Linked DNA regions of Homo sapiens: all the other regions are reported to be linked to region 1. Evidence: microRNA targets listed by miRTarBase, many of them from high-throughput screens and not tested one by one. Region 1 holds a microRNA gene; each other region holds the end of a gene's coding sequence. Distances are between the middles of the regions.

Evidence for each region. Region 1 holds the annotated microRNA hsa-miR-30a-5p (UGUAAACAUCCUCGACUGGAAG, at 2,233-2,254, opposite strand). A microRNA usually pairs through its seed, bases 2 to 8, with sites in the 3' UTR of a target mRNA and lowers its output. Matches are read on the target gene's strand: a 7mer-m8 pairs with bases 2 to 8, a 7mer-A1 pairs with bases 2 to 7 and ends in A, and an 8mer does both.
Region 2: the mRNA of TPBG is a reported target of hsa-miR-30a-5p. The part of its 3' UTR that is shown has no 7-base or 8-base seed match.
Region 3: miRTarBase lists WDR75 as a target of hsa-miR-30a-5p. The part of its 3' UTR that is shown has no 7-base or 8-base seed match.
Region 4: miRTarBase lists VPS33A as a target of hsa-miR-30a-5p. Seed matches in the 3' UTR shown: 7mer-m8 at 2,427-2,433.

What each region holds. Positions count from the first base shown.
Region 1 is chr6:71,401,363-71,404,547 of GRCh38, forward strand. MIR30A (microRNA 30a) reads right to left here and starts at 2,259; the gene lies at 2,189-2,259. RefSeq lists an enhancer at 727-1,255.
Region 2 is chr6:82,365,950-82,369,134 of GRCh38, forward strand. TPBG (trophoblast glycoprotein) reads left to right here. Exons shown (of 2, transcript NM_001376922.1): 2 at 1-1,471. The coding sequence ends at 275. Among named protein-coding and RNA genes, the nearest start is that of TPBG, 3.7 kb to the left of the region's middle. RefSeq lists an enhancer at 1-282.
Region 3 is chr2:189,474,853-189,478,037 of GRCh38, forward strand. It overlaps WDR75 (WD repeat domain 75), which reads left to right. Exons shown (of 21, transcript NM_032168.3): 21 at 361-700. The coding sequence ends at 565. Among named protein-coding and RNA genes, the nearest start is that of WDR75, 35 kb to the left of the region's middle.
Region 4 is chr12:122,229,674-122,232,858 of GRCh38, forward strand. VPS33A (VPS33A core subunit of CORVET and HOPS complexes) reads right to left here. Exons shown (of 13, transcript NM_022916.6): 12 at 3,127-3,185; 13 at 1-2,754. The coding sequence ends at 2,573. Among named protein-coding and RNA genes, the nearest start is that of DIABLO, 5.2 kb to the left of the region's middle.

The DNA.
Region 1 (3,185 bases):
ATTAGTTTATCTTACCTAAGCACATGCATGGTAACTCTGTCCACGTAGTGGTAGAAACATAATACTGTAAACTTTAGAAGTTATTTTTTTTGTAAAATAAAAAATTGCATCCAGATCTTATTTCAATTATGAATAACACACTGTTGATGTTATTTTATTTATTTATATGTATATCTATATATATATATAGATATATTTTTTTTGAGATGGTAGGCTCGCTCTGTCGCCCAGGCTGGAGTTCAGTGGCACCATTTTGGCTCACCACAACCTCTCCCTCTCAGGTTCAAGCAATTCTCAGCCACCTCAGTAGCTGGGATTACAGGCACGTGCCACCACACCCAGCTAATTTTTGTATTTTTAATGGAGACAGGGTTTCACCATGTTGTTCAGATTGATCTCAAACTCCTGACCTCAAGTGATCCACCTGCCTCAGCCTCCTAAAGTGCTGGGATTACAGGCGTAAGCCACCGTGCCTGGACTGTTGATGTTACTTTAAAATAGTAGTTTACATTATTACTGTGGAAATGTGGGGCACAAGACATAAGAAATACTAGGTATTAATTTTGAAACTACCCGGAATGGCTTATGGAGGTTTGTATTTGTTGATTTAAAAATAATTAAAAATGCTGTAATTTTTACAAATTAAAAAGTTCCCATAACTAATTATTTACATGAACAAAATGAACAGATAAAAATGAAAAATGGAAAATTTAGGGGCAGTAAGGTAAGGAAGAGGATATAAAATAACATAGGAAGAGAACCTAAAGAAAGTGAAGGTCAAAGATTTAGGAAAAGTTTAACCATTTCTTCAAACCTATAGTCATTTACCTAGGAAATACGGTCGGGTGACCCCAGAAAAACAGCCGAGTTATTTGCTCCAGGGGTTTTCAGCTTACCAATTAAAATAGACCACATTCTCAGTTCCAGACCCAGGGCCTGGCAGAGGCCTCTCCAAGCCCCTTGCATTTCAGTGGCAGTTGATGAACCTCTCATGGCCCAGCATGACTAATAGAGTTTTGATAGCTTTATGTATGAGGGAAACTTAAAGACATTTCTAACACATATTTCTCTCCATCCCAGGTATTAGAAGAAATGCTACTATTTTAAATAGTGGTATGATCATACTGTTTTAGTATCACTTCTTTATCATCATCATCAATGGGTATTAAACAGGGAAAAGAAACTCTTTTACATTAATGGAAACACTATATATTTATAAAATACTGTGTTTTAGAGGACAAAAGATATCACTTTCATATCTTTTTAAAGTGTCTAGTTTCTATATAAGTGTATCCTTAATATTTCTATTATACACTTAAATATTTCTCTTATACACTTAAATATTTCTATTTAAGTGTATAATATTAAAAATATCCGCCATAAGAAAAATACGCATTTACAAAAAAGGAAAATTAGAAATTATGTCCATCACAGAAATCTTCTACAGGATTCTGAATCTTAAAATTGTCTTCATATATTTAGGATAGAATTTGATGTATTTATTATTTTTAAGAGATATGAGTTATTGCATAAAGCTAAGTTAAAAGTTCAACCAAATGGAAACAGTATCCACAAATTCCTAAAATACTATTCTAATCATCTGAAACAAGAATAGGTTTTTCAAATAATAGAGTTAGTTGAATCAGTATTTGTTTGTTTTAGACACTTTATTAAGCTGAGAGCTGCTACTTTATTACTTAAACACTAAGCCTATAAGGAAATAAAAGGGGTTTAATCCAAGTAATGTGAAAATAACTAACCCTTCATCTTACTTTTTTCCCCCAAATAATTGTGGTTTCATTAATGGATTTTTTTTTTGTGAATGGGTCTAAAAAACACCTATTTTGAAACTGCAGAAAGGGCAGGACAAAACAAATCACTTCATAGATTTTTCTGGGAAATATTGCCCTACTACGCTTTTAAAAAAAATAAAAATACTGTAACACATTTCCTCATTTCTCTTACGAATACTTTCTTTTTGATATTGCAAATTCTATGCATACACAGAGCACCTCCTCAATGCCCTGCTGAAGCCCTCTAAAAATGTACAGACATGGTTTTAAAGTGATTTAATTTATACCATTTTAATTCAGCTTTGTAAAAATGTATCAAAGAGATAGCAAGGTATTCAGTTTTAGTAAACAAGATAATTGCTCCTAAAGTAGCCCCTTGAAGTCCGAGGCAGTAGGCAGCTGCAAACATCCGACTGAAAGCCCATCTGTGGCTTCACAGCTTCCAGTCGAGGATGTTTACAGTCGCTCACTGTCAACAGCAATATACCTTCTTTAGCCTTCTGTTGGGTTAACCTGAAGAAGTAATCCCAGCAAGTGTTTCCAAGATGTGCAGGCAACGATTCTGTAAAGTACTGAAGCCTCATTCAAACAGCAATATTCTAGAAAATGTCTCAAATTCAAAACAAATAAGAAGGCTCATGGATGTCTATTATTCATCACCGAGCTTCTAGTTTCTATAAAATTTTGTGATATACTAAAACAACATATATAAATGGTTTCATTCATTATTGTTAGCCACAAGAAGTAAATAGGCAAGTGGCCAGGTTACTTAATATGATTTCAACATGCATTATGTAATTACAATCCTTTAAGCAAAAGTGACCAAACACAGAAACTAAATTATCTTAACAGCGTAAAGCGTACATTTAACATCAAATACTGCAGTTGAGTGAACTTAGACTACCGTGAAAATATAAAAGGTCTACTTGGAAAGTTATAAACTCTGACAAAAAAAAAAAAGACTTACATGCTGCTTTTATAGATCACTTTTGCTCTAAAGTCTGCTCCCAGAGAGGACTTGTACAGTCAGCTGATTTTTGAAAGAGTAAGCAACAATCAGGAGAAAAACAGAAAAGAATAACGAGGTATAACACAGGCATATATCAGTATGTGGATCAAAGTTTCCCACTGGAAAAACACAGAACCTATCACTCACAACAGTGACGCACATTAACTCCAAATTTGAATGTTTTGAATTCCACTCCCATTCTCTTATGAAAATAAATGAGGAAAACTGAAGGTTAAGCTCTATCAGTCACTACTTTCCTGAAGTAATTCAAAACCATTCTGAATCTAGTGAAAGATTAAGTTGATACAGAAAAGTGGGTGTGCCTTTCCCTGAGATTTGTTTTTAGATGAAGTTACCGTAAGGTTCTTAAATTGTGTAAGTCT
Region 2 (3,185 bases), 11 Mb from region 1:
GGAATCGGGTCCTCTTGGAACTCAACAGTGCTGACCTGGACTGTGACCCGATTCTTCCCCCATCCCTGCAAACCTCTTATGTCTTCCTGGGTATTGTTTTAGCCCTGATAGGCGCTATTTTCCTCCTGGTTTTGTATTTGAACCGCAAGGGGATAAAAAAGTGGATGCATAACATCAGAGATGCCTGCAGGGATCACATGGAAGGGTATCATTACAGATATGAAATCAATGCGGACCCCAGATTAACGAACCTCAGTTCTAACTCGGATGTCTGAGAAATATTAGAGGACAGACCAAGGACAACTCTGCATGAGATGTAGACTTAAGCTTTATCCCTACTAGGCTTGCTCCACTTTCATCCTCCACTATAGATACAACGGACTTTGACTAAAAGCAGTGAAGGGGATTTGCTTCCTTGTTATGTAAAGTTTCTCGGTGTGTTCTGTTAATGTAAGACGATGAACAGTTGTGTATAGTGTTTTACCCTCTTCTTTTTCTTGGAACTCCTCAACACGTATGGAGGGATTTTTCAGGTTTCAGCATGAACATGGGCTTCTTGCTGTCTGTCTCTCTCTCAGTACAGTTCAAGGTGTAGCAAGTGTACCCACACAGATAGCATTCAACAAAAGCTGCCTCAACTTTTTCGAGAAAAATACTTTATTCATAAATATCAGTTTTATTCTCATGTACCTAAGTTGTGGAGAAAATAATTGCATCCTATAAACTGCCTGCAGACGTTAGCAGGCTCTTCAAAATAACTCCATGGTGCACAGGAGCACCTGCATCCAAGAGCATGCTTACATTTTACTGTTCTGCATATTACAAAAAATAACTTGCAACTTCATAACTTCTTTGACAAAGTAAATTACTTTTTTGATTGCAGTTTATATGAAAATGTACTGATTTTTTTTTAATAAACTGCATCGAGATCCAACCGACTGAATTGTTAAAAAAAAAAAAAATAAAGATTCTTAAAAGAATTACAGTGTGTGCAAGTTTGCTTTGAAAAAAGGATGAAGGGCAGGAGTATTCAATGGTCTTGGTTCCGATGATAATTATTACTTAACATAGCTGAGAATCAAACTGTAGCAATGTCTAATATAAATAGACTTGGGAGATCGTTTTGAAATGGTGGATCCTTTTAGTATTTAAATGGAGAGTTTGAGTATTCATGTGACTGTATGGTCCCAAAGTTAATGCTATTTATGAAACAGTTTTGTAAGAACATAATGAAGTTGGTAAAAGCTAAGCGTTCTGCACAATAAACAGTTCCCAGTTTGGGGCTTTTTCAAGGCTAATGAAGTTATTGTTGGTCTAGAAAAATAGTATTTACTTAATAAAACTCTGTTTGAAATTGTTCTGTGGATTTTTAGAGCAGAATTTGAAACAAATGTAATGCAAATAAATATAAAGATAAAGTGTCTTAAAGACAATATTCTGAAATAAAAGATATAAAATATAATTTAAAAAATATTTCTCAATGTCTTAATGTAAATTGAAACTTAGATTTTCTTGAGGATATTTTCAAAAAAACATTTAAAGTGGAACATAAATGTTCTTTAGTTTATCAGAGACCCAGCTAATATGTTTAAAAAGTTGACTTGACATGGTTGAATATGAACTTGAGGAAATAACCACAGATAAATGTCTACATCTGTAAACACGTGTCTCAAGTATTTATAGGTTCTTATCTTCAGTTCAGTGTTTAAGAATTTGAGGATATTTTGATTTTAGCTAAGCTGTTCATAATGTAAGTATATACACCTTTGTGAAGAATAAATCACATTTAGGTGTAAATACAGGCAATCATTAATTGATACATCCATAATATACAAGGCTTTTATTATTTTTTCAGTTTATTATCTGTCATTTAATCTGAAAAGTAAATTCCATTAATCAGTCTTCAGGCTCTTTTATCAAGTGATTTAAATGTAGCCATTATTGCTTAACTGAAAGTATTAGGTAAACTTGCATCAGTAAGTCTTAGGGCTTGCTTTTCCTTTGAACTGGTTATGTCCTTCAGTGCTTTATGTTTGAAATAAAATCTACATTTTCATATTTTTATAAATAAAATAGGATCAGATAGTATTTTAGGTTCTAGAAATCTTTGCTGATTCCTTCTTTGAATTAAATTCAGAAATTTTCAAAGTAGGGCTAAAAATAAGTAAATCTTCCTTTTTATAGGTTAGAATATATAGTCAGAATACAAAGCTGTAATTCCTTAAATTCCATCAGGCTTGTTTTGTGAAATATAGTATTTATTATTTAAGGGTTATATTTCAGATCCTATAATTACCTCAGAAAAAGCTAAATATTTGGCACTTAAAATTCCATCAAACAGTTTAAGTGTTCATCAGAAATTCCTAAACTGTCTGGTTGCCATTATTTGGTAAGAACAATGAGATACTAATCTGTCAAAAATAGTGACCACTATCTTAGTAAACTGTTGATGGACTTAGTAAGTCTTCTGATATTGTAGGAAACAAATTATAATATTGATAGAGCCTCTATTGAGAAGAATTGTTTCTTCATCACATGATAATCTAACAGTTTAAAGTGGAGCTTTATCTAAGAACCAGGGAAGCAGTAGATTCATTAGTCTAGCTTTTCTCATCAACTCTTTGAAGCAATGATGAATCTGATAAAGTGAAGCCAAGTTTTCCCTGTTAGGTAGATGGCTTCTTTGAAGTTATAATTTATTGCTTCTTTTTCATCCCCCTACTTATTCTCTTGTTTGGACTTTCCAATTGCTACTGCTTTGTTTTCCATCACATCACTCCTTCCTGTTCTCCAAAATATGGAAATAAAAAAGTCAATTAAAAGAACACCTTATTCTTAAGATAAAAAATTGTTATTATTTGACAACTAATTAATGTTTTGCAGCCCTAATATTCTTAAGTCTATAAGCTTATAAAACATTCTAAGTTCCTTGGAAGATAGAGGCTATATAAATTCAATAAGTATAAGGGAATATGGGAAAAATAAAAGTATCACTTTATTTAAAAATAAGACAAGTCTGTTTGTTTTAAATACTGTTCTTACTATTAATGCATTGTTGACTCTAGAAACCTGCAAGTATCCATTTTTAAAATTTTATTTTAGTTGGTAATACTCTTTATTACTGAACGTAAAATTTTCAACATAAAACACCCTTCATTTATCCTTTACAAGTTTCATTTGAAGAA
Region 3 (3,185 bases), not on the chromosome of region 1:
ACAGGATCGTTTGTGTTTATCCTTTTTTAGAGTATTCTTCCACTGTATTTCTTTTTATTTCATAAGTTTTAAAATAGATTTAAAGGCTATAGGATTATTAAGTCAAGTAACATACATTGAAAATAAGTTTCAAAAAAGATCTTGTATGTGTGTGTTTTAAGGGCTTGGTACATAATTTAAAATTACATGTTTGTAAATTCACCTGCTCTTTTATAAATAACCCATAATTTTTAAAGTGTACTTAGTAACAAAATTCTTCATTTACTTTGTGTGATTATATTTCTACATAGGTGTCAAATTAGAAAGTTACTGTTTAGAAACATTTAATAGTGTTTATATTTTATTCTGTTATTGTTAAAGTGCTAAGGAAATTCCTGAAGATGTAGATATGGAAGAAGAAAAAGAAAGTGAAGATTCAGATGAAGAAAATGATTTTACCGAAAAAGTCCAGGATACAAGTAACACAGGTTTAGGAGAAGACATTATACATCAGTTGTCAAAATCTGAAGAAAAAGAACTGAGAAAATTTAGGAAAATAGACTACAGCTGGATAGCTGCCCTTTAAGCCTTGGAGATGGGGAGGATCCTTGGACTTTGTGTTTTTGATTGTATGTTGATATTCTAAAAACATCTATTTTAATGTTATTTCTGTTCTAAAAATAAGATAATAAATATTAACAAACTTTGCTTTTTTAAAAAACTGATAATATGAACATGTATTTGCATCATGCTTTACAGTTACTGGATCATTGATATACCACATCATCTCATTTTTTTATTTTGAGTCACACATCAGCCTTATAAAACAAGTAGGTATTTTCTTCACAGGTGATACAGCAGAACTGAGACTTGAACTGTACAGCATATGTCCCCTAAGCTGCAGTTTGGAGATACGAAAAGATTTGAAAGTTAAAAGGCTTTGTTGACATAATTGTTTTAACACAAATTCATTTGGTGGCCAAATGTGACCTGAGCTGGAGTGAGGTTTCTTTAGTCCTGATTTATTCCTCTTAGTGTATTTATTTCTCTCAGAGAAATTTAGAGACGAGTTGATTATGTGGTGTTCCACAAACCTCACTGAGGATATTATATAATAATATGGGCTGCCTAAAATTCTGAATTCAGATGATCTGACCCAAAGTCCAGTTGCTAGTAGAAAACGATCCAGATCCCCTGTTTTAGTTAAAGCAGTGAAGCTGCTACATCTTAACCACCTAGCATTTTGAGTTTTCCACTTCCCTAATGCACTTTTGTAAAATTTATATTTAGAAGTTAGCACAAAAACAAAGCGTTTGTAAGAGCACATCTCAATGAATGTTCACAAAAATTGCTGCAAATGGCTTTTTAGTTTGTGCTGTAGACCAAATGTTTGTTGTGCCCCCCTAAAATTCAAATGTTGGAATCTAATCCTCAATGTGGTATTTGGAGATGGGGCCTTTGGGAGATGATTAGGTCATGAGACTGGAGCCTTTGTGAATAGGATAAATGCTGTTACAAAAGAGACACTGGAGAGCTTCTTTGCCCCTTCTAACACGTGGGGATACAGCAAGAAGAAAACCATCTGTGAACTATGAAGTGGGGCCTCACCAAACAGCAAATCTGGTGCCTTTTTGTTAGACTTTCCGACTTCTGGAACTGAGACATAAGTTTCTGTTTATAAACCACCCGGTCTGTAGCATCCTAAACAGACTTAAAGTGTTTTTGAATCACTATTTATGTAAAATCTTAACTTTTTTTTTTTCAAGTCCCCAACCCCCACCTCGGACTCGTAAGTGGCTGGGACTACAGGCACTCACCACCACACCTGGCTATTTTTTAAATTTTTTGTAGAGATGTCTTGCTATGTTACCCAGGCTAGTCTCAAACTCTTTGGCCTCAAGTGATCCTCCGACCTTGGCTACATTTTTTAAAAATAAGCTACATTGAGATTTGAGATGTAACTCACAAACCATACAATTCATGCATTTAAAGAGGAAAATTTAGTGGGTTTTAATACGTTCAGTCTTGGACACCATCACCACAATCAATTTTAGAACATTTTCATCACCCCAAAACTAGCCATTTCCCTCAGCCTCCTTCACCTCACCAACAATGCAACAACTCATCCTATCTCTGTAAATTTGCCTATTCTGGACATTTCATGTAAATGGACTCATACAATATGTGATCTTTTGTAAGTGGCTGCTTTCATTCAGCATCCATGTTGTAGATATATCAGTACTTCATTCCTTTTTATTTTCACTTTTGTTAGTATACCTATGAGGGGAATTACTGGGTTATTTGGTAACTATGTTTAACCTTTTGAAGAACCACCAGATTTTACATATCAGCTGCAGCATTTTACATTATTTACATTATGGCACATAAATTGCTCCACAGTCATCCGTTAAATTGAGTCCCTTTCTACTGGTGGTGGGATGGAAGGTGGAAATTAAAAAAAAATTGAGATCCCTTTCAGGGGTGCTTTTGTTGTTTTAAGTCTATTTTTTTAAGGGTAGTTTTAGGTCAAGAAAATTGAAAGTACGGAGATTTCCCATATACCCTCTCCCCCAACGCATGCAATAGCCTACCCCATTATCAACATCTCTGGTGCACCAGAGTGGTACATTTGTTACACTTGAAGAACCTACCTCAACCCATCATAATCACCCAAAGTCTAATTTGAATTAGTGTTCAGTCTTGGTGTAATTCTGTGGGTTTATGCAACATATAATAATATGTATCCATCAGTATAGTATTACACGAGTATTTTCACTGCCATCAAAATGCAGCGTTAGTTTTTGAGGCCAGCCTTTGAGGTTTGTTCTGATCCCAGGAGGACCCATTTTAGCTGTCTCTTTCCTTGTTTTCTTTGTTTCTGGTAAACTAGCTAGTTTATGGTTTAGCTTGTTGTTCTAATGGAGCTACCAGTCTCCTCTTAATTGCTTACCACCCAAATCCCCATTGTTTTTGAGGCTTATGTCAGAACTGTATTCTTATGGACTGCCTCTTGCCCCTGGGCAAGATCTCTGAGCCACTGCTCCAGAACCATGAGTAGGCACAAAGGCCCAGTTCTCTCAAGAGTGACACCCCTGCTTTACAAATTGAGCAGAGGCAGTAGCCTACAAGCAAGCTGGGGCAGTGGCGACCAGAGCTCCAGTATTCTTAGCCTACCATCCTTGGAGTAGAGGCTCCACTCTGTGAGT
Region 4 (3,185 bases), not on the chromosome of region 1:
ACCGTTCACATATCCTTTCTCAGTAAGGGCATACTCTTTTGAGACAAAGACTGCTTCAAGTATTAAATGAACTTACACAAAGGCGTATAATATATAATTATCTACCATTTTCTATTTGCATACAAATGAAGCAATTGAAGTTTTTCAGTCTTCTGCTGAATGCATTTTTAGGAGCTGCCCTAACTATGCTCTGAGCAAGCAAGTATATAGAGTCTTGGGTGAGTGCAGACACATGAGACTACAACTGAGTATCTGTTCCCAGGACAGAATCCCCAGCCAGGGAGACTTGACCAGACTTGAATTGAGCCCCAGGAACCAAAAAATGGAGGGGCAGGGTGGATTCCATTCTCTAAAGCAGCTGATGACTGCCTGAGGTGGAAGGTATAAACTAATCTCCCTGGGATATAACAAGTATTTAAAAAAGGATTTTCTACAATGAAAATGGTTTTCTTTAAGACATTTCCAAATACTGAATATCAAGGCCAAATTAATTCCATGAGAAACTAATCTTTCAATTATTATCTCTGCCACTCTTCATTCTTTCATTAAAGAGATTTTTAAAAAAGTATACAGAATTTCTCTTTCATTAATAATATTTACCGTGCCCATCAGAACTCCACTAATGGGCCGGGCACGGTGGTTCACACCTGTAATCCCAGCACTTTGGGAGGCCGAGGTGGGCCAATCGCCTGAGGTCAGGAGTTTGAGACCAGCCTGGCCAATATGGTGAAACCCCATCTCTACTAAAAATACAAAAATTAGCCAGGTGTGGTGGTGCACATCTGTAATCCCAGCTACTCAGGAGGCTGAGGCATGAGAATCGTCTGAACCCGGGAAGTGGAGGTTGCAGTGAGCTGACATCGCACCACTGCACTCCAGTCTGAAAAGAGCGTGAGACTCTGTCTCAAACAAACAAAAACAAAACAAAACAAAAACCTCCACTAATGAAAAAGGTGGGGAAAAACAATGTGTGGTTACTAATCAACAACCAAAATCACACCTGGCTGGGACCCAGCAAAGCAGGGGACCAGCTAGTTTTGCTGGAGGCTTGGGCAAGGGCAGCAAAACTGCCAACCTGACTTGGTGCCCTTGGTGCCTTAACTCCTCCAGAAGCTAAGATGGAGGAGCAGAGGGGCAGAGAACACACGGATTTTCAACTTCTCCTCCAACACCCCTGCCCCCCACCACAGCCTGACAGTCTCCTGCAGGAGTAGCAGCAGCTGTGGCTGCTGGTCTCCAAGATCATCAAGAGATACACCTGGAGAAGGCTGAGGTCACCAGAGAGGGGGCTGAAACAGTGTTTTCAGCTGAGTACGGAGTGGCCACAGACTGCTAGAAAAGTACACGTGGCAGTTACCATGGAAACGAAGTGGCCAGATGCTGAAGAAGCAAGAGTTGCCCCTGCTCACTGTGGGACCAGTTGGATGTTGGGCCCTTGATGGACAGAAGAGAAAACGGAAACCTCAATGGAGGCACCCACCACTGCTGTGTCTGGAGTTAACGTGTGTGCTAAGAAACTGTCTTTGAATTACTTCAAAGGCTGAATTCTCAGAAGGTTGCTCCCCAATTATCACATTCTTCCATGTCAAAAGCCCCTGATAAGTATGGAACCTAAGGAGATGTAGCTGATCACATAGAGCATAAACTTTGTTTCTGGGCAAGAAGCTCCCCTAAACCTCTTGCTTTGTAAGAAGTAGAAGGAAGCAAACTTGCCTTAGTGATCAGTTGCGACAGTGACTGATGACCCTAAATATAATCTCCCACACTCTGCAGGAAAAAGAAATCTCAACTCAGTGATAAAATGATCTCCAGCTCCCAACACTTAACCACTGTCCTAGGCCTGATGCGCCTTGAAGAAATACAGCACTGGGGATTAGAGGATGAACTTTCTCTTTTTATTTTCAGTTTCACCTCCTCAGTCTCAGCTTTCTTATTTTAAGAGCTGGCCCCGTTTGTCTGGCTGAATGGATTATCTACCCCCACCATCCTTAATGTATTTCCAGAGGTCTCTAATGAAGACCCTGAGCTTAGAAAACTCAAAACCAGTGCTGCTTTTACTCAGGTTGATTTTCTTCTATTCTTCTTTCTTCAGCAGATTAGGGGCCAGGCACGGTGGCTCAGGCCTGTAATCCCAGCACTGTGGGAGGCCGAGGCAGGTGGATCACCTGAGGTCAGGAGTTTGAGACCAGCCTGGCCAACATGGTGAAACACCATGGCTACTAAAAATACAAAAATTAGCCGGGTGTGGTGGTGCATGCCTGTAGTCCCAGCTACTCAGGAGGCTGAGGCAGGAGAATTGCTTGAACCTAGGAGGTGGAGGTTGCAGTGAGGTGAGACCGTGCCACTGCACTCTAGTCTGGGTGACAGAGCAAGACTCCGTCTCAAAGGAAAAAAAAAAAGGGAATACAAAAGAGACGGAGAAAGCAGTAAACAGTAGTATAATTTAAGAAGCTGACCCCAGAATATATTCTGTATTCCCATGTTTCTTCTATGGGGTTTTACTTCCTTTCAGCAATTTCTTCAAAGAGGTAGTTTATTCTGCAGTACACTTGTTAAGTCTCCTCTGAACATCCTAGAAAGGTTTTTCCATCAGAGCCTCTATCCAACTGGTTCCATTCATTAGTTTAGTGGTGGCAATGACATATTCTGTACCTCCATCTTCCAACTGGGAGAGAAATCGCAGGGCAGCAATTTCAGCGAAGGTTACGCCCCCAAGGAAAAATATCAGAGTCACTCGGTTTTCTCCCGGTTGACCTAAAATTTAAACATTTCAGAATTAAAAACTATTTATTATTAATGCTTCTCTTCCCACCTCTTCAAACATTTTATCATTCATAAGAATAAACAAGTGCCTTCATCCAGACAGTTCATCTGAAACCTAAGAATACTGATTTTGATCTCAACATTTTTTTTTAACTTCTGAGATTCTCAACACAGAAGTTGAAAGCTGCTATCCCTCAGGGAATAATCCGATTCGAGTTCTTACTACATACATTAGCAACGAACAAAAGAGGTGTATTTAATTCTGACTCCTAAGTGCTTTACTATTTTACAAAGCAACTGTACAATACCTGAAAACCACACTAACAGTACATAATTATCTGTAGATGCTGGACTGGGACTTACGTTTCTTCTGCAGTCCTGTGGGCAGTGGCTGCCGCTCCTCAAAGTGGGGCCCTGGGAGG